Homo sapiens: one gene and its partners. The protein of the gene in region 2 purifies or fractionates together with the protein of the main gene of each other region. This does not show direct contact. Each region holds a gene or a part of one and is shown on either strand. Other genes may lie near its edges.

Evidence for each region.
Region 1: the proteins of USP33 (region 2) and SRBD1 purify together in Homo sapiens (co-immunoprecipitation; one large-scale study listed by IntAct). This does not show direct contact.
Region 3: the proteins of USP33 (region 2) and PRPF38B purify together in Homo sapiens (affinity purification with mass spectrometry; one large-scale study listed by BioGRID and IntAct). This does not show direct contact.
Region 4: the proteins of USP33 (region 2) and USP42 purify together in Homo sapiens (co-immunoprecipitation; one large-scale study listed by IntAct). This does not show direct contact.
Region 5: the proteins of USP33 (region 2) and KRT72 purify together in Homo sapiens (affinity purification with mass spectrometry, with the first as the bait; one large-scale study listed by BioGRID). This does not show direct contact.
Region 6: the proteins of USP33 (region 2) and TRIO purify together in Homo sapiens (co-immunoprecipitation; one large-scale study listed by IntAct). This does not show direct contact.
Region 7: the proteins of USP33 (region 2) and EPAS1 purify together in Homo sapiens (affinity purification with western blotting; one study listed by BioGRID). This does not show direct contact.

The regions. Positions count from the first base shown.
Region 1 is NC_000002.12:45,415,432-45,419,942, forward strand, and holds part of SRBD1 (S1 RNA-binding domain-containing protein 1), read right to left. Parts: intron 4,464-4,511; coding exon 4,357-4,463; intron 3,111-4,356; coding exon 2,934-3,110; intron 1-2,933.
Region 2 is NC_000001.11:77,748,842-77,753,352, forward strand, and holds part of USP33 (ubiquitin carboxyl-terminal hydrolase 33), read right to left. Parts: intron 1-4,511. UniProt on the Homo sapiens protein: Deubiquitinating enzyme involved in various processes such as centrosome duplication, cellular migration and beta-2 adrenergic receptor/ADRB2 recycling.
Region 3 is NC_000001.11:108,694,984-108,699,494, reverse strand, and holds part of PRPF38B (pre-mRNA-splicing factor 38B), read right to left. Parts: intron 3,794-4,511; coding exon 3,725-3,793; exon of another isoform or gene 3,715-3,724; intron 3,453-3,714; coding exon 3,301-3,452; intron 3,219-3,300; coding exon 3,158-3,218; coding exon of another isoform or gene 3,144-3,157; intron 1,935-3,143; exon of another isoform or gene 1,686-1,934; coding exon of another isoform or gene 1,646-1,685; exon of another isoform or gene 1,638-1,645; coding exon of another isoform or gene 1,632-1,637; exon of another isoform or gene 1,478-1,631; intron 892-1,477; coding exon 668-891; intron 334-667; coding exon 1-333. UniProt on the Homo sapiens protein: May be required for pre-mRNA splicing.
Region 4 is NC_000007.14:6,145,469-6,149,979, reverse strand, and holds part of USP42 (ubiquitin carboxyl-terminal hydrolase 42), read right to left. Parts: intron 4,465-4,511; coding exon 4,324-4,464; intron 3,833-4,323; coding exon 3,732-3,832; intron 2,242-3,731; coding exon 2,088-2,241; intron 398-2,087; coding exon 1-397. UniProt on the Homo sapiens protein: Deubiquitinating enzyme which may play an important role during spermatogenesis.
Region 5 is NC_000012.12:52,594,434-52,598,944, forward strand, and holds part of KRT72 (keratin, type II cytoskeletal 72), read right to left. Parts: coding exon 4,465-4,511; intron 1-4,464. UniProt on the Homo sapiens protein: Has a role in hair formation. Specific component of keratin intermediate filaments in the inner root sheath (IRS) of the hair follicle.
Region 6 is NC_000005.10:14,482,342-14,485,841, reverse strand, and holds part of TRIO (triple functional domain protein), read right to left. Parts: intron 3,261-3,500; coding exon 3,069-3,260; intron 774-3,068; coding exon 596-773; intron 1-595. UniProt on the Homo sapiens protein: Guanine nucleotide exchange factor (GEF) for RHOA and RAC1 GTPases. Involved in coordinating actin remodeling, which is necessary for cell migration and growth. Plays a key role in the regulation of neurite outgrowth and lamellipodia formation.
Region 7 is NC_000002.12:46,356,022-46,360,532, reverse strand, and holds part of EPAS1 (endothelial PAS domain-containing protein 1), read right to left. Parts: intron 4,383-4,511; coding exon 4,231-4,382; intron 3,810-4,230; coding exon 3,725-3,809; intron 1-3,724.

The DNA of each region.
Region 1 (4,511 bases), on a different chromosome or scaffold from region 2:
TACACACATTTAAAAAACAAAAATATACATCTATAAGAATATATTTTATATATATGGAGGAGTGTGTATATATAGTGTGTATGTGTATATGTATATACACACGTATATACACATGCATATAGTCTGTATACGTATATATAGGTTAAAAAACAAAAATATACATAAAATATTTTTATATATGTATAAAATATATAGAGAGAGTGAGAGAAAAGGAGGGGAGGGGAGGGGAGGGGAGGGGAGGGGAGGGGAGGGGACGGGAGAGGAGAGGAGAGGAGAGGAGAGGAGAGGAGAGGAGAGGAGAGGAGACGAGAGGAGACGAGAGGAGAGGAGAGGAGAGGAGAGGAGAGGAGAGGAGAGGAGAGGAGAGGAGAGGAGAGGAGAGGAGAGGAGTCTGAAACTAAAATCCCAGATCATCTTATCATGGGAGGCAGAGAGAGTTGAAGAGAGAAAGATTGGGAAGGATCCTGTTTCTAGTCTTCTCTAAGAGGACAGACACCTATTAACTCCAGAGGTCAGTCCAAAACCAATTTAAGGATGATCATAAGAATAGAAGATGTACAACTTTGAAATCACTAAGGAGAGATAAAGATGAGATGGGAAAACAAGGAGAGAAACAGAAAACTTATTAACTGATAAATCTAATAAATAGCGTAAAAGGAAAAGAAGAATCAGAAAGCATGATGGAGGGGCAAAATACGTAGGAAGAATAAGCCCAAACATATAAATAAATACAACAAATATGAATGTATTAATAACAGATTGAGTAAAACCACAAAATCTAGCTATGTGTTTCTAAGAGCCATATCAAAAATTAAATGTCATAGAAAGTATAAAAATTAAAAAAAACAGGCATATACAGTAACATTGCTAGCAAATAAATTTCAAAGCAAAAAACATTAAATGTGGTAGCAATATTCCATTCTGAATAAACCTATAGTTCATGAGATGTAACAGTCACAAATCTTCAAGTACCTAATTATCAGCTGGAAAAGTACAAGGCTTTAAAATAAGCTTCATCAATAAGACACTGATTAGACTAAATTACAGCCCATCCATACAATTAAATTTTATGCAGACAATATAAAGAATAAAAAATTAGAAATCTATATGTAATAATTTGGAAAGAGATCCAGAAGACTGAAACAAATAAAGCAAGTTTCAAATAGTTGCAGAGCCTGATCCCTTGTGTATACATTTTTAAAATAATAAACATATACATACAAGGTGACATAACTGTAAATTTACTTTCTGGAAGCAACATATAAGAAACTTTTTCAAGTGAGACTTGAGAGGCATCTTTTACTTTTTGTTCTTTTTTTATACTGTGAGTTTTTTGGTGTTTTTTTGGTTTGCTTGTTTTTGAGACAGATAGGATCTTGTTCTGTCGCCCAGGCTGGAGTGCAGCGGCATGATCTCGGCTCACTGCAACCTCCACCTCCTGGGTTCAGGCAATTCTCCTGTCTCAGCCTCCTGGGTAGCTGGGATTACAGGTGAGCACCACCATGCTCAGCTAATTTTTGTATTTTTAGTAGAGACGGGGTTTCACCATGTTAGCCAGGCTGGTCACAAACTCCTGGCCTCAGGTGAACGACGGCTCCTGGCCTATGCTGTGAGTTTTCTAACCAAGTGTTCAAAGAACATATAAACTAACAAAAACAGAATCATTTTATCTTCAATTTTTTTCAATTGTGACTTCTAGGTTTCATGATCTATTTAGAAAGAATTTCCATCACTCTAATGCTCTGCAAGATTTCCCCATGTTTTCTTCTGGTGCTTTTACAGTTTTTTACTTTTTTTGACATTTAAGTCTATGATAAATCTGTAATTTATCTGGGTATAGGAGTGAGAAGTGGGACTACAGCTTCCTTCACACATATTGAATTACTGGCAGTTGTCATAATATCATTTGTTAGATAATTAATCAATTTTACCCTACCATTTGAAATGTCACCTTTACCACAAACTAAATTCTAACCATGTTTTGGTGGATTTCAGACCTTATTCTGTGCTATTCCTACATCAAAAGCAAACTGTTTAATTTCCACAGCTTTATAATGTATTCTAGTGAGGCTTAATCAGTCTTTTCCAGAAGAAAGGTTATCTTCCATATGACCTCTATTATAATTTTGTCAAAATTATAAAGTCCATATGAATTAACCACGTAGTCCCAAAGTAGCAGATACGTAAATGTTCTTCTTTCATGATTATATCATGCTAAGAAGTTTATCTAACAAGCTTTTGTGCTTTCAGGATTAGAAAATAAAGAAATTTAGCTCTTGATCCACACAACTGATAATCAATGCTTTGGTCCATTTTCAGTGAGGAGGGAGTGGGGAAACATATCTATGCTTAGGGAACAGCTATGTCAGTATAAAGTGGTCATTTTGAAGTCACCATTGTCACCTCATCTTGTACCAGTCCTTCCCATTTGCTATGCCCTAATTGTGTGGGCCTTTGCCTCATTTCCTGAATACACCAAAGTTGGTCCTGCCTTAGGACTGTGCACACTTAGTGTTCACTTTGCCTGGAATGCTCTCTTTCTGATCCTTGGATGGCATTTCATTCAAAACTCTGCTCAAATAAGTTTTCAAAAAATAACGAATCTAAAGTAGTTGTATTACTCTCCTAAGACAGTGTCACATATCCCTGCTTTAATTTTTATAGCACTTCTTGCCATCTGAAAGTACTAATTTTACTAGTTTGCTTATTGTCTGTGTCACATGTTAAAATATAACTCCATGAGAATCCGGAATTTGCTGACTTGCTCACTGTTGTATTCCCAATGCCTACCAAAGGACAGTCACTCAACACTTAACTGAATGAAGGCATGAACAATGGACACTTAGAAAATTTTACACTAATCAGTGGTAGGATAGGTAACAGTAACAAGAGAGGAGGTTGACAATAGAATCAAAGTGTATACTTATACTCACCTGCAAAACGTTCGGATATAATCCTGGTTGATTCTGATGAAGCCAGCACACTGTTGGAAGGATTTTGGGCCCAGCCCTTTCACTTTCTTCAGCTGTTCTCGGTTGATAAAGGGTCCATTTTTCTCTCGCCATTCAATAATATTTTTGGCCCTGTTGGCATTGAGTCCTGCAATATGCCTAGAAAAAAAAAATAAGCAAACTGAAAAAAAGATCTCATCTGAAAAGACAATGATATAAAACATTTGGATCATAAAAACGACTGCAATGACATATCCTCATACGGCTAAGTTAAGTTAATCCAAAAGGGAGTTTAAAAAAAAAAACAAAAAAAAAACGGAGAAAAAAAGAGTTGTGCAAGAGGAAAGAAGGACAACAGAATAAAAAAATAATGACAAAACCAACAGCTGTCATAAAGATGCTGGTAAGAAGGCTAACACTGATGCAAGAAAAAAATGTTCCTTAGTTTTTCTATACTATTCACATTCCTTATGTTTCTGGATAAAGTAATAATTTTGCCTATTTTTTTCAGCATACATACAAAGTGAGTTAGAAGAAGTTATAATAGCTACAACTGTGTTGTACTACCTTTTTTGTGTGTTAGCCTGTTCTCAGTAATATAGAGCTGAACTACAGAAAGGCCCTTATCTATAATTGTCATGGTTAGTATAAATTATATACAAAGACTATATCATTAGGTAGTTTGCTTGGTGTCAAAAGATTATTTCAGAGAATCTCAACTCTATTATAAAATTCCATATATGAAATTATGAAATGTTTGTAGATGTGTTAGAAAATCAACAACTTAAAATGTAAGGGACAGTTTCTGCTATACCTGTTTCAGTGAAAACGGTCCAGATCAGGGAATTTCATGCTGCATTAGCAGACTTGTGTAATAAATGCAAAACTGTGAACAAAAAAGCAGCTCTTCTAAAACCATGGGGGAAAAGAAGATTATATAACATGCGATTATAGTATGATAAAAATTTTGACAGGTTTCTTGTGGAATCAGGGTAAAAATATGGTAACCATACCTTGAACCCTCAGAATTTATCTTTTGGTTACTGCCAGGTTTGACAGATGCATGCAAGAGGCTTAACTAGTGAAAAATCTCTACTCTCACGTGGTGGGAAACAGCTCTTTTCCATGTTAACCTTATTTAAATTCTATTAGCAACACTAATACACTCAATGGTTACCATATGCTCTTCACTTTAGACCTGCAATATTAAAAATGATAATGTGAATTGTTATAATTCTTTTCTTAAATGATGTCTTCCCCTCTGATTACTTAAAGCAATGTATAAACCCATAGACGTTCTCTACTTGACAACTTTATACACGTGTTCCCTTCTTCTAGCCGAGTTTGGACTGGACAGCCAGTTAAACTCAAGATTCTGTGATCTTCAGCCACATATTTGTCTCACCTTAACAAAACTTCTGAACAGATGTTAATATCCACTCCCACAAAGCTGACACATTCTTCTACAACACTGTCCAGTGTTGCCTTGAGTAAAGTCTGGGATACGTCATGCTGAAAAGACAAAGATCAAATATTAACAGTGAAGGAGATGTAGTTCTT
Region 2 (4,511 bases):
TTCACAGAATGCATTGACTAGCTTTGCATTCTTCATCATGGAAAAGAGAGTTCCTTTTTATTATAATGATGTGTTGTTCTTCATAAATGAAACTCAGCTGTGAAATTATATGCTATGCTGCCTCTGTCAAGAACCAATCTTCCATCATTTTTTCAAACCTTTCATGGGGATTGGGCAATTAACATTTTTACTTCTTGGGTCAATTTTACTCATTGACATTTTGCTATAACAACATCCATTTTCTCTTGAAATAACTTTGACAGTATAGCATTACATGTATATTCTCAAGAAAATCTGCAAAAGATTCCATTAATGTCTCCTGTATTTGGGGTCTATGGTGTTTACTCATTCCCAATCTTGTACATTTTTATTCCATATCTTTTTCTTCTACAAGATGTTTATCTAGATCATTGGTATTTGCAAAGAACCAGATTTGGGATTTATTTATCTTCTCCACTATTTTTGTTCTGATCTGTTTTCAATTCCATTAATATCCATATCCTACTTGCCTTTGGTTGTATTTTTTTATGTTTTTTGTTTTGTTTGTTTTTTTTTTTGGAGACGGAGTCTCGCTCTGCTGCCCAGGCTGGAGTGCAGTGGTACAATCTTGGCTCACTGCAACCTCCACCTCCCAGGTTCGTACGATTCTCTTGTCTCAGCCTCCCAAATAGCTGGGACTACAGGCGTGTGCCACCACGACTGGCTAATTTTTGTATTATTAGTAGAGATGGGATTTCACCATGTTGGCCAGGCTGATCTCAAACTCCTGACCTCAGGTGATCCACTCTCCTCAGCCTCCCAAAGTGCCGGAATTACAGGCATGAATCACTGCACCCAGCCTGGTTTTATTTTCTTAATCCCTAAAGATGAGTACTGAGCGCTTTGTTTACTGAAAGTATTTAAGCTATGTATTTTCCTCTAAAGTAAAAATTCTGCATTTGCCAATGAAATGTAGATGTTCTTCTCACTGCTTTTTAGGCAATACTATTTTGCCTCAGAGGAAAGAAATGGGATCAGAGGATTGAAAAGAAACTTCCAAGATAAATATTTTTTTCTAAAATCTCAAGCAAAAAATAAGATTAAAATAAATTCTCTCTGCTGATAGCTGAGATGAAAAAAAGAATAAAACATAAATACATTCTCTCTGCTCTGCTATTAATTTTGCATTATCTAAACAATTTAATAAGAATTGGCTGGGCAGGGCCAGGTGCGATGACTGTAATTCCAGAATTTTGGGAGGCCGAAGTAGGTGGATCACCTGAGTTCAGGAGTCTGAGACCAGCCTGGCCAACATGGCAAAACCCCTTCTTTACTAAAAATACAAAAATTAGCCGTGCATAGTGGTGGGTGCCTGTAATCCCAGCTACTCGGGAGGCTGAAGCAGGAGAATCACTTGAACCCAGGAGGCAGAGGTTGCAGTGAGCCGTGATCACGCCACTGCACACCAGCCTGGGCAACAGAGCAAGGCTCCATCTCCAAAAAAAGAAAGAAAGAAAGAATTGGCTGGGCAGCCACGCATGACAGCTCAGGTCTGTAATCCCAGCACTTTGGGAGGCCAAGGCGGGAAGATCATTTGAGCTGACGAGTTCAAGACCAGCCTGGGCAACATGGTGAAACCCCATCTCTCTACAGAAAATAGAAAAATCAGCCCAGCGTGGTGGTGCACACCTGTAGTTCCACTGAGGCAGGAGAATCCCTTGAGCCCAGGAGGCAAAGGTTGCAGTGAGCCAAGATTGCACCACTGCACTCCAGCCTGTGCAACACAGCAAGACCCTGACTTAAAAAAGAAAGAAAGAAAGAAAGAAAGAAAGAAAGAAAGAAAGAAAGAAAGAAAGAAAGAAAGAAAAAGGAAAAGAATTAGTGCATGTAAACAAAGGCTAACAATTTGTCCCAAGGATATTTAGTATCCCGTATAATACAATGCTATCAAAATAGAAAACCCTTAGTATTTTCTTTGCCTAGTTTTACTCAGTTTATTTACTAAGGTAATAAAATCATTCTTTTATTCCTTTATTTGACAAATGTTTATTGAGGGTAGGGCATTCAGATATAGTAGGGTAAGACAATGGGAGTTCTTAGCTACTTCAATTTCTTCTCAAATTGTACACCAAAAGAAAGAAGGCATGTATGCTTCCATTCTTGTCTGATAATTTAATCACAGGAGATGAGTATTAGACATTAGAAAAAAACAGAAAATGGTTGTATATGGAAATGCTATTGTCCAATCCACAGAAGTAGATTTTGCAAAACTAAGACTCCTGTAGAAGCTTGTGACTTACAAGTTGGAAATCACAAAGAGTGCACAAGATTTTATCTGTTTGTCCTTATCTTTGTAATCTTGTATCTGGCAGCTTTTTCCTCTATCTGCCACACTAACTGGACTACTGGAAGTTTTCTCACCAATAATGATGGCAGCAACACCAACTGAAAATTTTTCCAGATGAAAACGACTGCACTCACGCTCTATGATGTACAGCTCCGGTGGCTAAATTGCTCATCTGCATTAAAGTAAATGCAAAACTGCTTCTGGGCTGGGCATGGTGGCTCGCACCTGTAATCCCAGCACTTTAGGAGACTGAGGCGGGAGGACTGCTTGAACCCAGGAGTTCAAGACCAGCCTGGGCAACACGGCAATACCCTGTCTCTACCCCAAAAAAATACAAAAATTACCCAGGCCTGGTGGCATGCCCCTGCAGTCCCAGCTATTCAGGAGGCTGAGGTGGGAGGATCACCTGAGCCCAGGAGGCAGAAGTTGCATGCAGTGAGCTGTGATTGCACCACTGCACTCCCGCCTGAGTGACAGAGCTAGGCCTTGTCTCAAAAACAAAACAAAACTGCTTCTGAAGATATTACCTTTTTTTTTTTGAGACGGAGTCTTGCTCTGTCGCCCAGGCTTGAGTGCAGTGGCGCGATCTCAGCTCACTGCAAGCTCCACCTCCCGGGTTCACGCCATTCTCCTGCCTCAGCCTCCTGAGTAGCTGGGACTACAGGCACCCGCCATCACACCCAGCTAATTTTTTGTATTTCCAGTAGAGATGGGGTTTCACTGTGTTAGCCAGGATGGTCTCGATCTCTTGACCTCGTGATCCGCCCACCTCGGCCTCCCAAAGTGCTGGGATTACAGGCTTGAGCCACCGCGCCGCGCCCGAAGATATTACTTTTAAGGGGAGAATATTTTCGTAGTACAATCTCCAAATTCCAGGTTGAAATTCTGACCCCTTATCCTAATAGAAGATAATCAATCAGCTATTCAAATTTTAATATTAGGAAAAGTATAGGGAACCATGTTATTAGTACAATTTTTTTTTTTTTTGAGACAGAATTTCACTCTGTCGCCCAGGCTGGAGTGCAGTGGCGCAATCTCGGCTCACTTGCAACTTCTCCCTCCCAGGTTCAAGCAATTCTCATGCCTCAGTCACTTGAGTAGCTGGGATTACAAGCATGTGTCACCACATCCAGCTAAATTTTTGTATTTTTAGTAGAGACGGAGTTTCACCGTGTTACCCAGACTGGTCTCAAACTTCTGGCCTCAAGTGATCCACCCACCTCGGCCTCCCAAAGTGCTGGGATTACAGGAGTGAGCCACTGCGCCTGGCCTTAATATAATAATTACACATCAGGACATAGTTGGTAACCTAAGGAGCTTTTAATATTGAGAAACTGCCTGAATTCCATTGCCTAGTCTATTCCAAAAAGTAAAGCTCTTCATAAAAAGTCAGATTCACATTACAGAGAAAAAAAATTATGTCAGAAGGATTGGTAGCTATTTAATAGTTACATATAAGATTAATATGAATGCAGGAGGTCTTCACTAGCAGGTGTCAGAACTGCTCAATATTTTTAACAATAACCTGGATAAAGCTACAGAAGGCAGGCTAGTAAAATATAAACTTAAAATTATAAAAATAAGTTTTTAAAGAAAAATTAAACTATTTTTTAAAATAAGCTAAAATTGGCTGGGCGTGGTGGCTCACACCTGTAATCCCAGCACTTTGCGAGGCCGAGGCCGGTGGATCACCTGAGGTCAGGAGTTCATTACCAGCCTAGCCAACATGGTGAAACCCTGTCTCTACTAAAAACACAAAAAATTAGCAGGGCGTGGTGGTGTGCGTCTGTAGTCCTAGCTAGCTGGGAGGCTGAGGCATGGGAATTGCTGGAACCCGCGAAGAGGAGGTCGAAGTGAGCCAAGATCATGCCACTGCACTCCAGTCTGGGTGACAAGAGCAAAACTCCATCTCAAAAAATAAAAAATAAAAAAAATTAGCTAAAATTAACAGGACGAAATTTAATAATGATGGATGTGATATTCGACATTGGGATTCAAAGAATCAACCATATAAACTGAGACCAAAAAAGGGGGTCAGGTATTTGGATTCTAGACCCTTGAAGAAGTAGCAATTCCTACTCAATTAATCAACAGAACACTAGGTTTCAAGGTTTCAGAATAAAAAGAGTAACCAGTCTTGCTGGGTATGGTGGCTCACACCTGTAATCCCAGCACTCTGGGAGGC
Region 3 (4,511 bases), about 31 Mb from region 2:
TTATCATAGTCACGATCTCGTCTTCTACCTCTCTCATTTTCTTTCTCTCTTTCTCGATCCCTGTCCCTTCTATCCCCTTTCCTATCACGACTTCGACTGCGACTTCTATGCCTTTCCCTACTTCTGCTGCGCCTGCGTTCTAACCCCCGGTCAATACTTCGGGATCTTCGCCGTTCTTTCTCCCTTTCTTTGGCTTCACGCTCTAGTCGCTGGCGTTCTTTCTCTCTTTCTAATTCTCTGTCAAAACTAGAAGACCCATGGCCCTCCCGATGATGACTTCTACTTCTTGACCTTCTTGGGGACCTCCGTGGACTCAGAGATCTCCTTGGAGACCTAAGGAAGGCGGAGGGAGAAAGAAAATTTCAATGAATAAAACATATGCAATTCTTTTCACAGTAAAACTTTCAACAGCATTATTTATTCATGTCCTCAAGCTTAAGGCCATGTCAAGAATCATTAAAGCAAAAAATTTTATTGTTCTCATTTACAGATGCATAATTTTATAGAAAAAGCCCTGAAAGGAAGAAAATAATCTTTGGGGGGTAAAAGTGACAAACTAATAAAATGAACAGTAAAAACAAATTCCTAAGAACTTGCTATTTCTCAGAACCATTAATTTTGTATAAAGCATATATGAAAAATAAGCATAATTCAAGAGTGACATTACCTTGAACGTCTGCGTTCAACATGTCTGTCTATTTCCTCAGCACCTTCCTTCCCATCTTTCTTGATTTTTCTAGGTCGGGTTTTAATCTGTTGATCAATATTCTTTTGAACTGGAACTGGAATTCTTGGAAACAAGGTAGAAAACCACTCCAGTTTTGTGAGAAAAGATCGTAGCATTTCTCCAATGGTCATTACACAGCCTCCACCAGCCTTCACATCTAGGTCCTACAGAAACACAAAAGATACCCTAGCCGTCAAAAAAAGTATTTCCATATATACATGAATATTATAAAAATATTACCATCTTTGGAATCTCAATACAAAAAAAACTAACAGAAAAATTTTATTTTCATATCCTGATCTGACAATGAATGAACAGAAATATTTGGGCTTAGTGTGTGCATGCAAGTGAGAACAAACCCTGCAGCCTCACAGGCATAAAGGGAACTGATCTCACTCAGTTAACAATATGAAAAAGCCCCTTACATTTCTAAACTATGCGGAACGATTGACTTAAATTTACATTCCACATACCTACTATGTATTTATTTCTGTGGACATATTTGCACACATCATATACCTTGCACCATAACCTAGCTACATATGATCTACTTTAGATAATTCCTGTCTAAAGGTTATCTTTTAACAGCTCTAATATAAAATGAAGCCCTAATAAAACTGGAAGCAATAGCAAACCAACTGCCATGAAGCAGTGAGGTTTCTAATTTAGTTATGTAGAAAATAAATAAATGAACAAATAATTGGAAACGCATAATCCATGATGACCATTGTCTCTGAAAAGGGTCATTACCGCATGAAGGCCTTCTTGCTATGCCCTCTCACAGCTCAGGACATGTTAGTCAGCTATTGTCAGTCCCAAACCTATAGTGCAAGCACACAAGGAAAGTGAGATTTGTTATCTAAACAGGAAAACAAGAGCTAAAGGTAAAACTGCTTGCACTCACACACATTTAAGTGTTCAGATATACAGTATTTCCAAATATAATCGCTGCAGATATCTAAGGAAGAAAACAATAAGTTAGCTTAAATAGAGGACCTCAGATTTGTAAACACAATAAAAAACATAAAATAGAGGCATCCAGAAACAAAACCAATACAACACCAATTATGAAGAGGAACATGCTTTTTTAAAGACAGAAGGGAGAAGCACTTCAGTCTGAAAAACTGATCTAAAGATAAAAAGACCTTAAAGATTGTGATTTAAAACACGTTTTGCTTCTTCTGAGTGAAGTAACTCAGTTAACAGGCAAAAAAAAAAAAAAAAAAAAAGAGAAAAATAAAAATTCTCCATGTCTAAATGAGATTTTTTTTTTTTTTAGGTGTGCATGTAATAACAAAACACAATAGATTTCCATTAGAACCATCCTTTAATTCAATAAATTCTTTGGATGAACTCTGTAAATAGACTACTGACACATAGCACTCAAAAAGTCTTATGAACCTTAAAACACAAAGTAGTAGACTGGGTAGACATAGGGACAATACAGCTCATCATTTCATTTTTGACATGTTGGACTTCACCATGCAAGTAAATTAATGCATATATGATATTTTGTTTTGTTTTGAGAAAGGGTCTTACTGTGTTACCCAGGCTGGAATGCAGTGGCAATGATCTTGGCTCACAGCAAATTCTGTCTCCTGGGCTCAAGTGATCCTCCCACCCCAGCCTCCCAAGTAGGTGGGACTAAGATGCATACCTCTATGCTCAGCTAATTTTTAAACTTTTTTTTGTAGAGATGAGGTCTCACTATATTGCTCAGGCTGGTCTTGAACTCTCGAAGTGTTGGGATTACAATGTGAGCCACCACGCCCAGCCAATGCATACACGATTTAAATCTAACTTAGTATTTCAGATTTCAAATTAGGGAGACTCGAATTACAATTTAAAAAATTTCTTTTTTAAAGGTGTGTGTGGTGTACTAGGAGTCAGAAAACTGGAATTAAAATTTTGTCACCTTGAACAAGTCATCCAAACACTTAGCCTATTTATGTAACACCCAACTCTTCAATTCTGCACTTCTATGCAAGTGGGAATACTGATATTTGGAAGAAGCTAGAGGGTGAAGAACTGAAATGTTCCAGAAGAAAAAAAAGCTACAATTAGTATTCTATGTGCATATCTTTTATTATCTGTTCGATCTTGAGCATGCCCCATCTTGAAAAGTCACTATTAACTATACAATTCAGGATCAATACAATACACAGAACATAATTAAGAAGAGAAAATTTTCCAATAGTTACCAAACACATTTAAACAATTTTAAAACAAGAAAATAAAACTTCAGAAATTTACCCTAAAATACATAAAAGCCATCAGGTCTCAGTAAAAGGACATTAATTCCAAAAGTATCTCACTGAAATAAATTTAACTACAGGAAGTTCTTGAAGACATTAAACCACCAATAAATAAAAGATAATAAAAATATGAGAGTAATCAGAAGAAAACAAATTATTACCCTTGTTGACATACCTCTTCATCATCAAGGAAGGATTCAAACCAGTCCCACAGATCTGTAGGGGGCTGTGTATATCTAGAATTACAAAAGACTATTATTAAACACATGTGAATTAAAATGAGATATTTACTGGAAATGTACATAAATGTACGCTCACCTTATATACATAAATCCAAGCGCTCTAATATATGGAGAGTCTGTGTGTGTTATAAGACCCATCACTTGCTTTCGAGTTAACTTCAGGGTAAATAATTTGTATAACAGGCAAAATGCTGTAGAAACAATTCCTCCTGTTCCAACACCTCGAACCTTTAGGGGAAACGAGTTAAGAAAAAGTAGTAAAATAATTAACGGACTCTTAACACCAATTGATTAATCCTGTTAGGTATCAATAACAATCCATAATCCAGAACTAAGGAGCATTAAAAAGTAACACTTTTCTAACCCTATTTCACTGAACACTTGAATTTGGATTAAAAAAATTGTCACTCAAGTGTATAATTGACAGGCCTCTAGTTCTCTAAATATAAACTTAGTTATTAGACACAGAAAAACTGAAAAATGCACGTACTTCTACTTACCCCTCCGCACATCCCTGTCTGGCCCGCTGTTTTCCTGCTTCCTTTCTCCCATGGTTCAACGTGCGTGACCTGAAAATAGAAAAGAGGAACACAACAAACATTCATACTTTGAATTTGTTTAAAAGCCTGATAAAAGTAAACCCAAGTCCATAATAGAGCAGCTCTTCCAAAATTATTTTGGCATTAAGTATATGTTTACTGATATTAAGTGTGTAAATCATTTTTGGAAAAACTGCTTAGACATTTAGACAGCACCCATAAAGCTACTAGGGTTTAACAAAACCTTAATAGCTTTGCAGAGGAGAAATCCCACTCAACTAGCTTTATAAAGAGCTGATATCTACATCTGGGAGTCAGAAAATTTCTATAGTCTCACTTGGTTGCAAAAACTATTTGGTAATATTTTAACTTTGATAATATTTGACAATTTAACTTATGGGTTGCTTAACATTTTCCTTTAAAAATGGATTTAAGTCTCCAATTTAAAGCAAAAAGTATTAACGTTAAGCATTAATTTAAAAACTTCAAAACACCTTCAATAGTTCAATTTTATTGTAATTTAAAATCTACATTATAAAATTAAGGAAAATTACTTGAAGAAAATTTTCTAAAACAGTAACGAGTTACTTGTGATGCAAAATTATGGAACTTTTTATTTGTACATTTTTTCCACCAGGGTCAGGTTTATTCCTGATTAAAGATAAAATTACAAAGGCCACACTTACAGAGATCATTGTTGTAATTAAGCTTCAGCCTAATTATGTGTGAACCAATCCAATTATTCCCC
Region 4 (4,511 bases), on a different chromosome or scaffold from region 2:
CATTCATCACGGGCTGGGAGCAGGATTCACTGCGGGGGATCGGTTTTGTTACTTTACTAGAAACTGACATCGTAGATGCGTTCGAGGTAGACTGTACTGCAGAATTGGTAATGGTAGAAGAGGGAACGGGCTTGGTAGGGTTCTCCAAAGAATTACTATGAAGGTTAGGTTGAGACTGACACTGGCGAACAGGCAACTTGTTGTGAATACTGATTGTAATTTTTTGTTTCTTAGGATGTTCTGGGATCACTGAGGACCTATTAACTGACCAGTTTTGGACAGAAGCTGAAGCATTAACAGGACTAGCCCTGTTGACACTGGAATTCCCGTTAGGACTCGACATGGAACTGCTTGGCGTGTCTTTCAATGGTCCAGTCCCATTTAAGTGAGGTGGATTCTGGAAGTAAGCAGAGCGCACCTGGTCAGAGCTCCAGAAACATGGTCACACAAACAGAACCCATTTTGGCTGATGGGTCCTTCCCATTTTGCTTTTTTTTTTTTTCAGGACTAACAAGTTTCATACACCTGGAAATGTTCTCTGTTTTTCTCAATCCCTCCTACCCGCGCATACTTTCCACAGGCCCTAGTTTTCTGGCAATAAATCAACAAACAGGACATACATGTTTCACAGAAAACAATCCTCCGACCAAACTCGTTCTGTCCCAGATCTGATCGAAATCAGCAGGACCTGTGGCATGGAGTCACACACTTGCTACCTGGTTGGGTTTCCTGGGAGCTCGCTGATGCAGAGTGCCAGGAAGGAGGAATCACCCTCGCCTCGGAGCAAAGGAGACGGTCACGTGGGCGGAGAGTAGGGGCTGCTTCAGCCGCCACTCACTCAGCCATGACCCCACCACTGCCCCACAACGTCTCCACATTCTCCTCACGCAGTGAGACTCGCTGCAGGTTCCCCCATGGCTGCTGCACCCCCGTGGAGGCGCAGGCGTGAAAGTCAGTTAACAGATCACGTGTGGCCTTCCCAGCGTCTCCTCACATACCTGAATTAGCTGCCATCCTAACACTGGAAAGCTTCATGGTAAAAACAAAAACAGGCTTTGGAAAAGCAATGCCAACCACCCCTTCCTACAGGGCACATGCCCTCCTGTTTGCCAGAGTCCTGATGTCACTCTGGAGCAGAGCCCAAAAGGGGAGCCCGCTGGGCATTTGATGTGTGACTCTGTTATACCTCAAATATACTGCCTGATGTCCATAAAATAAAGCATGCAGCTAGACCGTGTGTGTGATCATCCAAAACAAACTCAAGTCGAAAAGCTGTGAAGATGCCACAGCTCAGATGAGGCCCCCACTCTAGAATCCTGTGTTCCTTGTGACACTAGCTCACTACTGTTCGCCCCGACAGGACCAACAGGGAGTAAAATCAAACCCAGGGGGAGAGCAGACAGAAACACCACACCCCTGAAACGACTAAATGGACCTAACAAACGTGTTCTTGTAAACAGATCGCTTTCCTGCAATCCGACAGGAATTAAAGAATCTCCAAGTGTTTAACCCTTTGAGAAGAATGGAAGTCCAGAGGGGACCTAAAATTTAAAGGTGCTGACACCCAGGCTTTCCTCTTTCCTCCCCATTGGTGAGGTTTGCTGTATATTTTGGGGTTTTTGTTTTTTTGGGGGGTTATTTTGGAGACGGGGTCTCACTCTGTTGCCCAGGCTGGAGTGCAGTGGTGCAATCTCAGCTCACTGCAACCTCTGCCTCCTGGGCTCAAGTGATCCTCCTGCCTCAGCCTCCTGAGCAGCTGGGACCACAGCACACACCACCATACCCGGCTGATACTTGTATTTTTTGTGGAGACGGGGTTTCACCCTGGTACCCAGGGTGGTCTCAAACAACTGAGCTCAAATGATCCACCTGTCTCGGCCTCCCAAAGTGCTGGGATTACAAGCTTGAGCCACTGCGCTCGGCCGTTTTCTGTATATTTGAAATACTGTGTAAGAGGGTTTGATTAAACTGTGAGAAGAAATTCAGATGTATTTGAGGACACAGCAACCACTACAATTCAACTTGAGAGTTTGAAGTTACATTTTAAAAATTAACATAAAAATGTTCTTCTCCCTAAGGACTGTTACCTTTATCATGTGAGAGGGAAGCTGTGGTCCGATAAAGCCTGGCGCAGCCTGTTTGTTGGTGACAACCCGCTGACTGATGACGGGGCGGGGAGAGGACTGGCCGGGGCTATGGGTGGGATGAGTAAGTTCACCTCCATTTTTCACATCATGGGACCTGGAAACAAGGAGAGCGATACTTAGGGTGACACAGGACACCTCCTTAGGAGAGATTCATTTACAAAGTCAACAGCATTTAACCCCTCAGGCGGAAACCTGATGAAAAAAATAGCATGTTTATGCTACACAGTATGGAGCTATACACATCCCCTCCTTCAGGCTAATGTCAGGCACTCAGATCAGGAGACAACAAGGATAACTGGGTAAATGACGTTCTTTAAACTGTGTTTTCTGAAGATGCTGTTTCATCTGAAAGGTATTTCTTTTCTGTTTATTTATATTTTCCTTTTTTTGAGACAGGGTCTTGCTGCGTCGCCCAGGCTGGACTGCAGAGGAACAGCCATTGCTCACTGTGGCCTTGCCCTCCTGCCTCAGCCTCCTGAGTAGCTGGGACCACAGACATGCACCACCACGCCTGGCTCATTTTTTTATTTTCTGTAGAAATGGGGTCTCGCTTTGTTGCCCAGGCTTATATTTTTCTAATTATAAATATATGCCACTGTGGAAAATCTAGTGTCCAAAAAAGTTAGAAACAAAATCCTACCCCTCAACTTGGCCTGAGGCCTCCTCTGATCATCATCTGTGCTTCAGCCCAACTGCCGAAATCCAATGCCAGTGTTTAATATTTCAATGTGCAGACATGAGCATTCTGCCAGTTGGACATTTGAGAATATTCTTGATTTTCAGCTATCAAACATTTTTTCCAAAAATGGAGCGAGTGAGTGAGTGAAAAGCGTATGCAGCCACAACAGGACAGAGCTGGGTGCGGGTGCTGGCCTTGGCCTGGAAGGCAACTGACCTGTGCTCCAGGTTGGGAGGTGCTGGCTGTGACCACGCCAGGTGCTCAGAGGTCCCTTCCTGAGGTCTCCACTCATTGTCCTGTGGCTCCTGGCCCACTCCATTACTGCCCGCAGCAGAAGCCCACCCTTGTCAGCCACCACCTCTCCCTGCAGCTGCACCTTCAGTGCTCATGGCCACAGAGTGCGATGCGGAGCAAACTCATCATCCCGCTCAGACACTACCTTTCTTACTCTCCAGGCACATGGCAGAGTTGATGGTTTTTGGTTTTTTTTTGAGACAGTCTTGCTCTGTCACTCAGGCTGGAATGCAGTGGCTCAATCATGGCTTACTGCAGCCTCGGCCTCCCCAGGCTCAGGTAATCCTCCCACCTCAACTTTCGGAGCAGATAAGACCACAGGCCCACAACACCACACCTGGCTAATTTTTTCGTATTTTGTAGACATGTGGTCTCACTATGTTGCCCAGGCTGGTCGGTCTCGAACTCCTGGGCTCAAGTGATCCTTCCATCTTGGCCGCCCAAAGTGCTAGGATTATAGGCGTGAGGCACCATGCCCAGGCTAGAGTTGATCTTTAAGCTGCTGGGTTTTTTTTTTTTTTTAAAACACTGAATATTGAATTCAAACATGTTGATAAGACAAGAAGAAATGACATACCAGAAAATCTGGCAATTTGTTTTCATGACAATACCTGATATAAAAGAGCACATAGGCTTGTTGGCTGAGTACCGATCTAATATCACTGGTAGATACAATGGAGTCATTCATTTGATACCAGAGGCCATTGCTAGCCTATAAATGAGAGCCAATAAAAGAGAGAGATTAGATTTAATTAAACATGGAACATAGTCAAGAGAAATATTTCTTTCTTTTTTTTTGAGATGGAGTCTCACTCTGTCACCCAGGCTGGAGTGCAGTGGCGTGATCTTGCAATCTCCACCTCCTGGGTTCAAGCGATTCTCCTGCCTCAGCCTCCGGAGCTGCTGGGATTACTGGCAGGTGCCACCACACGCAGATAATTTTTGTATTTTTAATAGAGGCGGGGTTTCACCCTGTTGGCCAGGTTGGTCTTGAACTCCTGACCTCAAGTGATCCCCCAGCCTCAGTCTCCCAAAGTGTAGGGATTACAGGAGTAAGCCACTGCGCCCGGCCAAGAGAAATATTTTTACCTCGGGTATTCACATTTTAACTGTAAAAGTTCCACCTCTCCCTACCCCAAGAATGCTACTGCTGTCTTATAGCATGTATGTAACAATAGTTAATAGCAAATCTGCACAGCTTACTTTTATGTAGCAGAAGTAATGGCCAGCATGGCAATTAAAACCAGTGTGGACCAGCACTGCATACAAGACGTAGACAATTGGCTCTCCGTTGGGTTGAGACATATATGGCCGAATATCAAGATACTCAGGGTATTTCACATCCTAGAAGGAAATGGAAACAGGAGAAACATTTCCGAGGGCACAGATCA
Region 5 (4,511 bases), on a different chromosome or scaffold from region 2:
AAAGGATGAGTTCATATCCTTTGTAGGGACATGGATGAAGCTGGAAACCATCATTCTGAGCAACTATTGCAAGGACAGAAAACCAAACACCGCATGTTCTCACTCACAGGTAGGAATTGAACAATGAGAACACTTGGACACAGGAAGGGGAACACCACACACCGAGGCCTGTTGTGGGGTGGGGGGAGGGATAGCATTGGGAGAAACACCCAGTATAAATGATGAGTTAATGGGTGCAGCAAACCAACACAGCACATGTATACATATGTAGCAAACCTGCACGTTGTGCAAATGTACCCTAGAACTTAAAGTATAATAATTTAAAAAAAAAGCACTGTTGAATGGCTGAGCAGTGCAGGGTAGTGAAGGGAGCTATTTCAAATGTGACTGGGATGTTTTCTGAGGCTGCAGATCTTTCTAGTTATGCTATATAAAACACACAGAAAGCAGTTTATATGATTTATCCCAGATTCTGTGTCTTATTCAAAAGATAACTGAAACCTTTTAATCAAATTATGTCATGAAACAGCTATTTCTATTACAGTCAATCTTTATTTTATATTATCTTACAAAAAGATTAATAATGTCTACCCCCTCTTAATAAAAATAAGACATATGGTAGTTGCCGGACCAATTAATTTTTAGTAGTTTATATCTATTTCCTAAAATACATAGAAAACTTTTGACCAAGTGGGCTATCAAAATCAATGACATTAGCTGTAAATAATTTTACATTATTTACTTCTAGAGGCCAAACACCAGAGTTCAATACACACATTAAAAAGAAAAATAAGTTTTATAGCATTATTAACTTAAAAATAACTTATTATTTAAAAATATATTACAATGAATAATTAAAAGTTAAATCATTAAAAAGTACATATTGATTTCTCTTGTTTTATAACATAAATAGTTATATTAGTTATATTAAATCTAAATCATTTTAATCTTGAATGCTTTCAATAACCTATTATACAAGACATATTTCTTAGTTTATTCTGAGTGGATTTTATAACAGTCCCTAAAGTACAAATTCTTACTTTTACTTGAATTTAGAAATGAAGTCAGGATTTTTCTGATGAAAAGCAACTCATGTCTCTGATTTGAATATGAAAATTGGTTTTTCCAATGAAGCTAGAGGGCAGATATTTTCTATATAAATTGAATGAGGTAAATCTGCAGCTCCAGAGTTTCAAAAATGTGCCAGTGTGTGTATTCGTGTACAAAAACATGAGGCAGAATCACATTATTTTTTAAGGATAAAGAATTGGCATAGGTGTATTGAGTACTAACAATGTTTTATGTTTCCAGTTCTTTCTGATCCATTGGATTAAACGTGGTGCTCCTAAAGGACAGAATAAGTTGTATAAGCATGGCCATTTGATCAGTCTTGGTAAAGCCTTATTGAAAAATTTTCCAGAAATTTGGAAGATAATGACTTTACTGACTAGGAAACAAGTTCTTTTTGCAAGTCAGATGGTTTTTAATTTTTGCTTTCAAAAAAAGAAGGATTTGAATTGTCAGCTGACAGATGGTTAAACATGATCTTTAATGGTGAGTCATTATGTGATTTTGACATGTAATCATTCACCTAAGAAAATATGTGTTGAGTGTGGGGTACTTTGTAGGCACAAAACAAAACAAATATCCCTGCCCTTAAGAAGCAGAGAGAGACAAATAACAAACACAACAAATAAGTTGTGTCAATCATGCAGCATGTTAGAAACAGTAAGCACTATGGAAGAAAGAAAAAGCAGAAAAACTGGAAAGGCATTCCGAGAACTAAATAACACTGGGCTTGCAAAACTCCTTCCATTAAAATCTACTTCTATAATTAAAGTTTCCCAGCACTCACCTAAGAATGGAAAACACACAGGACTAGAATCCTATCTCAGCTCAATAAGAATCAATATTCATACATGGATAACTAAGCCACTTAGAAAAAAATCTGCCCCATTCAACTCATTAGGAAAAGTATTTTCAATTTTTTTTCATTTTTTATGTTTAATACTTATTTAACAAAATTAGCAATACATTTCGTTGTTTGGATAACTCAACCCAAAATAAGTCTTTTGACATTTAAAAACTTATGATCACAAAAGGTAAACTTTCTTTTTTTCTTTCTTTTTTTTTTTTTAGACAGAATCTTGCTCTGTCACCCAGACTGGAGTGCGGTGGCTTGATCTCAGCTCACTGCAACCTCTGCCTCCCAGGTTCAAGACATTCTAATGCCTCAGCCTCTGAGTAGCTGGGAACACAGACGCACGCCACCATGCCCGGCTAATTTTTTATATTTTTTGTAGAGACAGGGTTTCGCCATGTTGGCCAGCTGGCCTCGAACTCTTGAGCTCAAATGATCCACGTGCCTCAGCCTCCCGAAGTGCTGGGATTACAGGCCACAAGAAGTAAACTTTCTAAGGTTTCGAGATACATGCATATTTTGTGATAGGGTGATCAATAAAAGACTTAGAGGCATAAAAATATATTATAACAAAATTATGTGGGGAAAGTGGGATGAAAATTGGAGTCCAAACAGGAAAAGGATCAAGGTAAAAGTTATGATTTTTAAAGCAGAGCCCATTCATTGGCTTTTTAGATGAAGGGTGATGGGCGCTAACCTGCTGCAGCACCTGGATGCAATTGGGTACATCTCAATGAGTGATGTGGCTATTACAATTTTAAATGGGAACACACATAATACGTTTGAAATTACACCCTTTGAAACTACTTACACTTATGATTAAAAGGTTGTAGTTTCAATTTTTTAACTGTGAAATGTTTTAATTGTGAAGAGTTTTTTAAAATCATTTTAGAGAGCCTATGAGAAAAGCTTCAGCGTATACAATGATGCTTAAGACATATACACTGTGCATCTTCTAGAAACTCACAGTTTAACAGGAAGGCAAATGCACTGAAAATTCTAATTCAACAATGACATATGATTAGCATTTCTTATGATATATCATAAGAGAGATGCAAAAACCTGGCATGAGGACCCACAGGTGGAAGAGATGGGTGATAAAATCAGTTTTAAAATACTCCTAGTAAATGCAGCTAATATTTATTGTACCCCTTACTACATGCTAAACACTGTGCTAAATTCTTAGCACAAATTATTTCATTTAATCCCCACGACAGCCCTATGAAGTAGATTCTATTATTATTCCAATTTTATAGATGAGGCAAAAGACATGAAAATACTTGGCCAAGGTCAAAATGCTAGTTACTAGTGAAGCTAGGATTCAAATCCAAGCCTTCTGACATAGGGAAAACAATGCCTTACATTTGTGTAGCACTTGGATTCTTTTCAAAGCTGCTAATACACTACTGTCTGGCTGGCATTATCCTCTCAATAGCTCTTTTAGGTAGCAAGGCAAGTATCAGTATTTAGTTTTCATAAATACTAAAACTAAAGTTCACAGAGGACACAGAGACTCATCTGTGGTTGCTCAACTAGTTCATGGTGATTCAGGAGCACAAAGCCACTCCAGTCTGAAAGGCCCAGAGATAGCACTGCCCCTGGACGCCTCCATGTGGGACTTCAGGACTGTGTCTGGCAGCCCCCTGTTCTTTCCAGACCCTGCTTGCATCTCTAGTTGGGCTCCAGTTCCCATCTTAATTCCACCTATCTCAGTTCACACCATATTTGTTTCTTCTTGTTGGTGGCTATCTGAAACTGTTCTTTAAGCCTGTCCTCACAATCTGTGTGCTCTCTGAGGTCAGGGACCGTGTCTCCTCCTTCCTTAGGTTCTCCATGCAGGGCTTGGGCCAGGGTTCTGCTTTGAAGGAATTTCAGAATAGGGATGGGCAGGTAGATTGAATATGGAGCAAGAGAAAGAACTCAGCTCTGACGACCTCCAGCCACTTGAATTGTGGAAGAAGCCACCTGTCCCTAGAAATCCTGGCATCTGGAAGCAAACTTCCAAAATATCAGGTCACACTGAGCCTTGATTTATTACTGTCTCATATTCAGCTCAACTTGGAGGAGGACACAACCTCTGGTTCCATCTCATTCTCAATCATCCTCAAACATTCTCAATTATTCTCTTTAAAGCCAGGATTCAGCAGCACAGCCATGATTCAACATGGAATAAGTTTTTTAAATTCTTTTTTTTAGATTTAAAATTTGCCCTGGAATTGGTGGGGTGTCTTACATTCTGGGAACTGCCATGGAAAACTTCACTCAGGAGGAACTACAAAGGCATTTGGGTTGTCCATCTGGTTTTGATACAACTCTCTTTCCCCCATTCCTTCATTTTCAGTGCTAGAAATTGAGCACACATTTCCTCGACAGTTTGGAGAACCGGTGTAGGTAGATCTATTCTTTTCCTAGTTCCATTCTGTCTGGATGTTCCTCCCTCCCCCGGTATCAGCAAGGATCTCAGAAGCAAAAATGCCATCTCCAAACGAAAACCTCATTTGAAATCAGATCCTCCAGGGCCATATTCCCTGCCACTCACTCACCTCTTCTTGTAGTCCTCCACCAAATCCTGCATGTTCCTCAGCTCCGA
Region 6 (3,500 bases), on a different chromosome or scaffold from region 2:
TAATTTTTTTGTATTTTTAGTAGAGACAGGGTTTCTCCATGTTGGTCAGGCTGGTCTCAAACTCCTGACCTCAGGTGATCTGCCCAACTTGGCCTCCCAAAGTGCTGGGATTATAGGCTTGAGCCACCATGCTTGGCCCCATCTCTTATTTTTTTAATGGGGAAAGGAGGTGTGGGTGTGCAAGGCCCTCGTGAATGTCTCTGGCCAATGCCATCTCGTGTTCTCGCAAACTCCTCTTCCTAGGACTGGGCCCTCGTACATGTTATGTGTGGGACAGTGTAGCTGCGAGGGGCACAGACCAAGAGCCAGATGGCCACTCTGTGTCCTGACTCTGCCCTCAACAACTTGTGGGACTCGAAGCAAATTACTCAGCCGCTCAGTGCCCCAGCTTTCTCATCTGTAAAGCAGGAATAATAATAGTACTGGCCACACAGGGTGGTTGTGAAGATGAAATAAAGCAATATCTAGGCAGTGCCTGAAGAGTGGTGAGTGCTAAGTTCTGTCATTACTATGGATATGAATGGGAGAGGGAAGATAAATACAAGTGAGTACACGAGGAAAGAAAGCACACATCTAGTAACAGAACACACATTACCATTTAAAAAATTGCGCTGGTTTTCTAAAATTTGGTTGATTTCATGGATCCAAGTTTGCCGGACACTTGGACTAGATGAATGCAAAATGAAGGTCTCTACCACGTCACCCGTCCTCGATGTCAGAGCAAATTTACAGGGATCATTTTCCACATTTTCCTCCAGGCAAAGGCAACTCACCTTAAAAAAAAAAAAACATTATTCATAATAGCTAACAGGTGGAAAGGAAGCAAACCATGTGTCCACTGACCGATGAATGGACAAAGAAAATGTGGGCTATGTGGACAGTTTTTCAGCCTTAATGAGGAAAGAAATTCCGACACACAATACGACATGGATGAACCTTGAAGACGTTATGTTAAGTGAAATATGCCAGTCTCAAAATACAACTATTGTTATGATTCCACTTACAGGAAGTCCTTAGAGTAGTCAAATGTGGGGATAGGAAGTAGAGTGGAGGTTGCCAGGGGCTTGGGGGTGGGGAAGTGGGGAGTTACTGTTTAATGGGTACAGGGCTTTAGCTCTGCAAGATGAAGAGTTGTGAAGACAGATGATGGTGATGGCTGCAAAACATGAATGTTCTTAATCCCATGGAGCTAGGTAATTAAAGATGGAACATTTATGTTATGTGTATTTTACCACAACAAAAAATTAAAGCACATTGATCCCCACTGGCCAAGTGCAAAGTGAAGTTCATCCTAACTCAATCCTGAAACAAGCACTTTTCAGTTGAACTGCCATTTTTACTGCCTCAGAAAACATCTGAAGCTTTTTAATGCCTCTTAACTCAGGTACATGGGGAATACAAGGCTGTTAAACTAATAGTTTGAACTAACAGCCTGAACAATTAACTAGAAATATGCGTCTGGGATTACCTGTTTCCCAAACCCCTCTATGATGCCTCAGTATTTATCCTTACTTACTTCCCAGGGAGTAAATGACACCATTAAACAAATCTCAAATATCACTAAAACCTATGTTATAAAATTGTATGTGATATCATGATTAAAATATGTCAAATAATTTTATAAAAATATGTAAAAAATATATACGAAATTCCTACAGTGCTGGAGTGATTTTCTGCCAAAAGACTTGTGAGAAGAATGGGTAGGCAGTTCTCAGGGGATGGGTGCAGTGCAGGGGATGGATGAGTGCAGTGCCCGGGATGGATGAGTGCAGTTCTCAGGGGATAGGTGCAGTGCAGGGGATGGGTGGTTCTCAGGGGATGGGTGCAGTGCAGGGGATGGGTGTAGTTCAGATGATGGCTGCAGTCCAAGGGATGGGTGCGGCTCAGCGTATGGGTGCAGTTCAGCGTATGGGTGCACAGTTCAGGGCATGGGTGCACAGTTCAGATGATGGCTGCCGTCCAGGGGATGGGCGCACAGTTCAGGGGATGGGAGGCTCAAGTGTAGTGGTGAGCCCAGAGGGTCTGTGCCTGACATGGCCTCAGGGTGAGGGGCCTCAAAAGGCGGAGTCTGGAGGGGCAGGCGGGTGGTGGGAGGTGCGAGGGCCCGCAGCCCAGCCTCATGCAGAGGCGGCCTCCTTCTCCAGCTGTTTGGCTCCAGAGCCCTCCTAGGTGCTGGTGGGCAGAGGCCCCCAGCCTGGCACCTGTGCCCACGGACAGACCCACCCCAGGTTTAGGCAAATGGAGGCTGCTGGGGACAGCCAACAAAAGCCTGAACGGAGAGTCGGATGGGGGAGGACGCAATGTTCTGCCTGTGTGCTGTGAGGCCCGCAGGTGTGCACGGTCTGAGAGTTCCCTGTCCCTGATGGCGTAGGGCAGGAGGCCCTACCAAAGGGAAGTACATCTCCCTTCTGACCTCAGGGTCTGCACAGCTGCAGAGCCAGGAGGACCCTGGCGGGGGCATGTATCTCCCAGGAGTCATCTGCTGGGACCTCAGGCCTGCCCTCTGCTCTTCTCTACCTCACCCTTGGTTTGTCCCTTTTACAGACTTGAGGGCCATTGGCAATTATTTTCTTTGTCCCTCTGTCTTCCTTTCCTATTAGAGGATAAGCTACATCAGGGCAGGGAGGGCATCCAGCTGGGCCATTCCTGGAGCCCTCACGCCTGTTGCTGAGTGCTCAGTACCTCCTTGGTGAGTGGAGGAAGAGAAGAAGACACCGAGTGAACTTTTTCTCTGATCATAGAGCAATCCCCCAAATCCGTGCTATCAAATTTAAACCAGTTTTCCTCGGTCCTAGAGAAGGGGGTGCATAAACACTACCCATGACCAGTTCTCATCATGGTAAGAATGAATGGCTGTGGTTACACAGAGGTGTGTACAAGACATCAGCCACTCAAGAACACAGACAGTAAAAAGAGAAATGGGGTGAATTCAAGGCTCTGAAATATACTAGAAAATTCTCAAATACTTAAACGAAGCATCAGGGTATGTCATCATTAAAAGGAAACAGTGTATCGGTGTGACGGGTACATGCGCTGGCACAGAGAAATCACACAGAGACACACGTTACCTTGATACTGTTCTTAAACAGGAATCCCGGCATGGAGAAGCCCTTCTTTTTATCAAGTGGTTCGCTGAATATGACGATCTGCTCAAAGAGGAAGATGCGCCTCTCTCTGCAGCGAGGCAGAAGTCCTGCATCTTGGTCTGTGACCAAGAATGTGTCCTGCAAGAGCAGTTTACCCTGGGCAACGATTTTCCCCTAAAACAAGAAATAAAGGGGGAAAAGGAAGGGGAGAAGAAAACATTGCCTTCTAAGTTATCTGAAGCTGTTTTCTTTAGATTTCCTCCTATGGAATAATGTATTTTTCTTTTATTAATTTATGGAGTTTAATTTTTTTTTTCTTTTACTGTTCTTGGCTCTAAACAGAATAATTATCTAAATAAAATTCTTGCCAACATTTGTATAGACCTCTGGCGCCTCAATTACAGTCACAGATTA
Region 7 (4,511 bases), on a different chromosome or scaffold from region 2:
CCAAATATCTGCTCTCTTAGCACCTGTGGTCTGCCATCAACACTGAGCTCCATCATGGCCTGTGAACTAATGGTTCCCACTCTCAAGCTTATCTCCTCAACTGGAGCATAAACTCCCACAAGGGAGGAGCTGCTCCATCATTTGATTTCCCATTGCATCTGGAACATGGTCAGTGGTGCCTTCAGAGCAGCGACACAACGACTGCCTATCAGCCACTAACTCAGCCACCCTTTCCTGGGGCAGGCCCAGGTCTTCTCGCAGAAATTCCAAGGGACAGTCTGAGTGAGGCCACAGTTACTCCAAGGGTGTAAGCCTTCCTCACAGGTTAGAAATGTCTCTCCGACACTCCCGTCTTTCCTTTATAACCTGTCTCTCAGGAGGAATTTAACCCCTCCTGTACCCCATTTGCAAACTGCAATAGCTGTGTTCAGGATACCATGCCATTAGCTTTGTCCCTGAAGTGACATATGTATCAAGGCTCTAGAGAGAACTCTGGTACGAATCTCCTTACAGTGGACTTGGTGAGCAAGTCCACTTTATGGATTAACTCAACCTGGATCATATCCTCTCTCTCAGCAAAAATTAAATCACCAAGACCAGCAATATAGCTTACTTCCTTATAGTTGCCAAACAGCCTCCCGATTCAGAACCATTTTCCACTTTTTGTAAAACAAAGTAATGAAGAGTGCCAGCTGAATCCCACTTGTCTGTGTCTAAATCCTGCCTACACCACCATCTCTGGTACCTACTTTCAAAGATATAATCCTGCCCCCTACCCAGCATCATAGAACAATCTAGAGCCTTGTTTCGAATAGTCACACTCCTTCCTCCAGGAACAGTCACCAGCCCCTGCACTTAAACTTCCAGAGGATCTTGACTGACATATTCCTGAAGAGTTATGTGTCAAAGGAACTGTGGCACCCTTGAACAAAACTTCAACATCCTTAGGGGACCCCACTCAGTAACAGACTGAATAGTGAATTTTTTTAAAAAAGAGAGAACATTCCTTCATCACGATTATAAAACCATTTCTCCCATACCAAATTATGATTCTTGCCATTTTAATTTTCAGAGGTGGGGTTAGCATACAATGAGATATACCTGTATCTTGGGATCTGGCCCCACCACCAGGACCAGACCAGTTGTTGGGTATAAGGGGGCTGGAGGGATTCATTTGTGGCTGTTGCTGGGGTATTATTGAGGCCTCTTAACTTGCTAACCTCTGGATTCTCCCCATGCTGACATTTGATCTTTTTTTTTTTTTTTTTTTTTTTTGAGACAGAATCTTGCTCTGTCGCCAGGCTGGAGTGCAGTGGCGTGATCTTGGCTCACTGCAACCTCTGCCTCCTGGGTTCAAGTGATTCTCCTGCCTCAGCCTCCCAAGTAGCTGGGACTACAGGCACGCGCCACCACGCCCAGCTAATTTTTGTATTTTTGGTAGAGATGGGGTTTCACCATGTTGGCCAGGATGGTCTCGATCTCTTGATCTCGTGATCCACCCACCTTGGCCTCCGAAAGTCCTGGGATTACAGGCGTGAGCCACCGTGCCTGGCCTTGTTCATTCTTTCTAAACACTGCTCCACACAGATCACTCCACCCCTGCACAGAAACCTTCAATAGCTCCCCATTGTCTATGGAATAAAGTTCAAGGCCCTCCACCTGGCCTTCAAAGCCTTCCACAATCTGCCTCATGGCTTTCTTTTCCTCTAGGAACTCACACTAACCCTTTAGGTCTAGATCACGAGTCCACCCATAGGCTGGCACCTTCAGTGAAGATTTGCTGTTGCATTGAGTTTGACTGATCCCAAGTCCTCAATATGCAGATCAAGAGATCTAAAGTTCTACTCAGATAATTAGAGGTCACTTGGCTGTGAATCATGGCACTTGAGAACTGAAAGGTTGTCGCCTTTGCCTAGTCCAATACCATCAATTTGAAAAGAAAGACTCTGAGGAACAGAGAAGTAGGGTACTTGCTTCTGGTCACAGACTCAAACTCAGACTATGGTCAGTGGCTGAACTGACACTAAGAACCCAAAGGCCAAAGGGTTTCTGGAGTACAGAAGAAATCAGTCTTTGGTTTTCTCAGGCTTTCTCAGGCTTCAAGCACCTACCCATGCAGAACATGAATCCTCTTTTTAGAGAGCTTTAGAAAGTCTGGTAGCCCTTTCCCCACAGAACCAGACAAGACACTGAGCAGCCTACAGGGTGCTCTCTGCCAGTGTACCCTAGGACCCAGGTGGTCTAAGGCCTGCAGAAGAGAGAGCAGAGGAGCTGGGTGAGGGAGCTGTGGCAGTGGTAGAAGAGGAGGTGGTTGTGATTCTGTACTTTGCAGGCCCAAATGTGGACTGCAGACTCAGTCTGTAATAGGGTGGAGGTGAGCCAATGAAGTGTCTGTTTTTGCAGCGTGTGTGGTAATAAGAGCCAAACCTTGTAGGCTTAGCCTCACTGCCTCTGTTATTCAGGCTGGACAAGCACAAGCCCCATGGCAGTGACAGGTGAGGTTGTTAAAGAGGACATCTAGACATGCACAGAATCTCCCCAGACCAGTGACAGAATCTCAGGTTTGGAAGGGACCTTGACAGTCATTAAGCCCCAATTCTGACCAAAGCTTCAGTCCTCTTAACAATGTCCCTATTCATGCCTTTGTTGAATGGCCACAGTTACAAGACAGGAAGCTCCACTGCCATTGCAACCATTGCAACGTGCTTTCTGCCTGTGTGGGTCCTCTCATCTACTGGCACCTGCTGGGTATCCCCATGGGTAAGGTCCTGAATGCTACATCTTTTTAAACCTCTTCTCCATCAAAACCTACTTGACCTGCGTCTCATCAGGGTACCATTTCCTGTGGTAGCTCTTCTCCAAAAGTAGCTCCAACAAGCCATGCCTTTTGACACTCATGGCTTCGTGTAGTTTCCTCCCACAATGAGCCAGGGCTGGCCTGTAACATGCTCTAACCAACAAGATGGGGCAGAAGTGATGCTCTGCCAATCTGGGGACAAAGCCTTCAGAAGGCCTGGCAGCTTCCACTTTAGTGCTTCTGGGAGCCCTAAACTGCCACGTAAGATGTCTGGCTACCCTAGAGACACCATATGGAGAGGGAGAGTCTCTGAGTCTCCATAGAGTGAGAGAACAGTCCTGTTGTCCCAGCATGCCAACTGAGTCCAGGGTTCCAGCCACCTGCCACAAGGTCCCAGACGTGTGTGAGCTATCCTGATCACCCCAGCCTAGTCTGGCCCCCAGATGACTGCAGCCCAGCTGACATCACATGGAGTACAAGACCCACCCACTGAACCCACAGAACCCTGGGAGATAATCATCAAAGCCCTATGTTATAGGTGGTTTGTTAGACAGCAATAGATAACTACAGTAGTTACTATGAGCACTTTGGCACAGACTAGTTCCTCATTGGTTTGGGTGGTGTCATTTGGCAGAGATGCTTGACTCTTGGGTGATGAAACCTCCTAGAGACAGTGTCCTAACCCAAAGGTGTCCCCTAGTAGTGGGACACCAGGCACCATGCAGGGCCAGCAGGAGATATTTCTGAGTACTGGATCCTCTCAATGCCCCAATCTCATCTCACAGGCTACATACTTAAATTTTTTAAGGACATCCATTTTTCCTGCATCACAAGGGCCATGAGCTATCTCCCTTATACCCGTAGACAAAGGGGAGGCAGATTCCCACCCAGTGGGGGCAAGAAGGAAGTAAACACAATTAAGGATACCATTTTTGAGACTCAGGTTCTCACGAATCTCCTCATGGTCGCAGGGATGAGTGAAGTCAAAGATACTATGTCCTGTTAGCTCCACCTGTTTCAAAAACAAGGTTAGGCATCATTATTCCTAACAGTGAAGTAAAAGACTCCAAGAGTAAGCTGAGCCACCTTCCAGATTTGGAGGCAGGGAGGAGACTGAATTGGGTTTTCTCATAATCCCAGTCCAGTGTCAGGTCCACAGACAGAAAGATGTAATCGGGGACTACTGATGATGACAGAGACTTGGTCTGTTAATGAGTCAGTAGAGAGCTGTCTACCAGGATGGACATGAGCAAAGCCAAACCCAATGCTTGGGGGTGGGAGCGTGGCCTGAGGCGTGTGGCCTGAGGTCAGCGAGGGTCACCGTGGGCATTTGCAGGGAGAGGTCAAGTGGGATTGTGGCTAGCACCTTCCACTCATTTCTACCCCCAAATGGAAACATTTCTTCTTTTGAAAGAGATAGAGGAGGGTGTCACCTGTGTAAGTCCCATGAACTTGCTGATGTTTTCTGACAGAAAGATCATGTCGCCATCTTGGGTCACCACGGCAATGAAACCCTCCAAGGCTTTCAGGTACAAGTTGTCCATCTGCTGGTCAGCTTCGGCTTCGGACTCGTTTTCAGAGCAAACTGGAAAGGGGGGGGGGTGGGACAGCTTGCATGAATGTGGAGTGAAAACAGATGGGACTGGCACAGATAGGCATTTGCCAGGGATGGTGCAAAGGCATTGGGTGGACTTTTCTGGAAACGCATACTGCC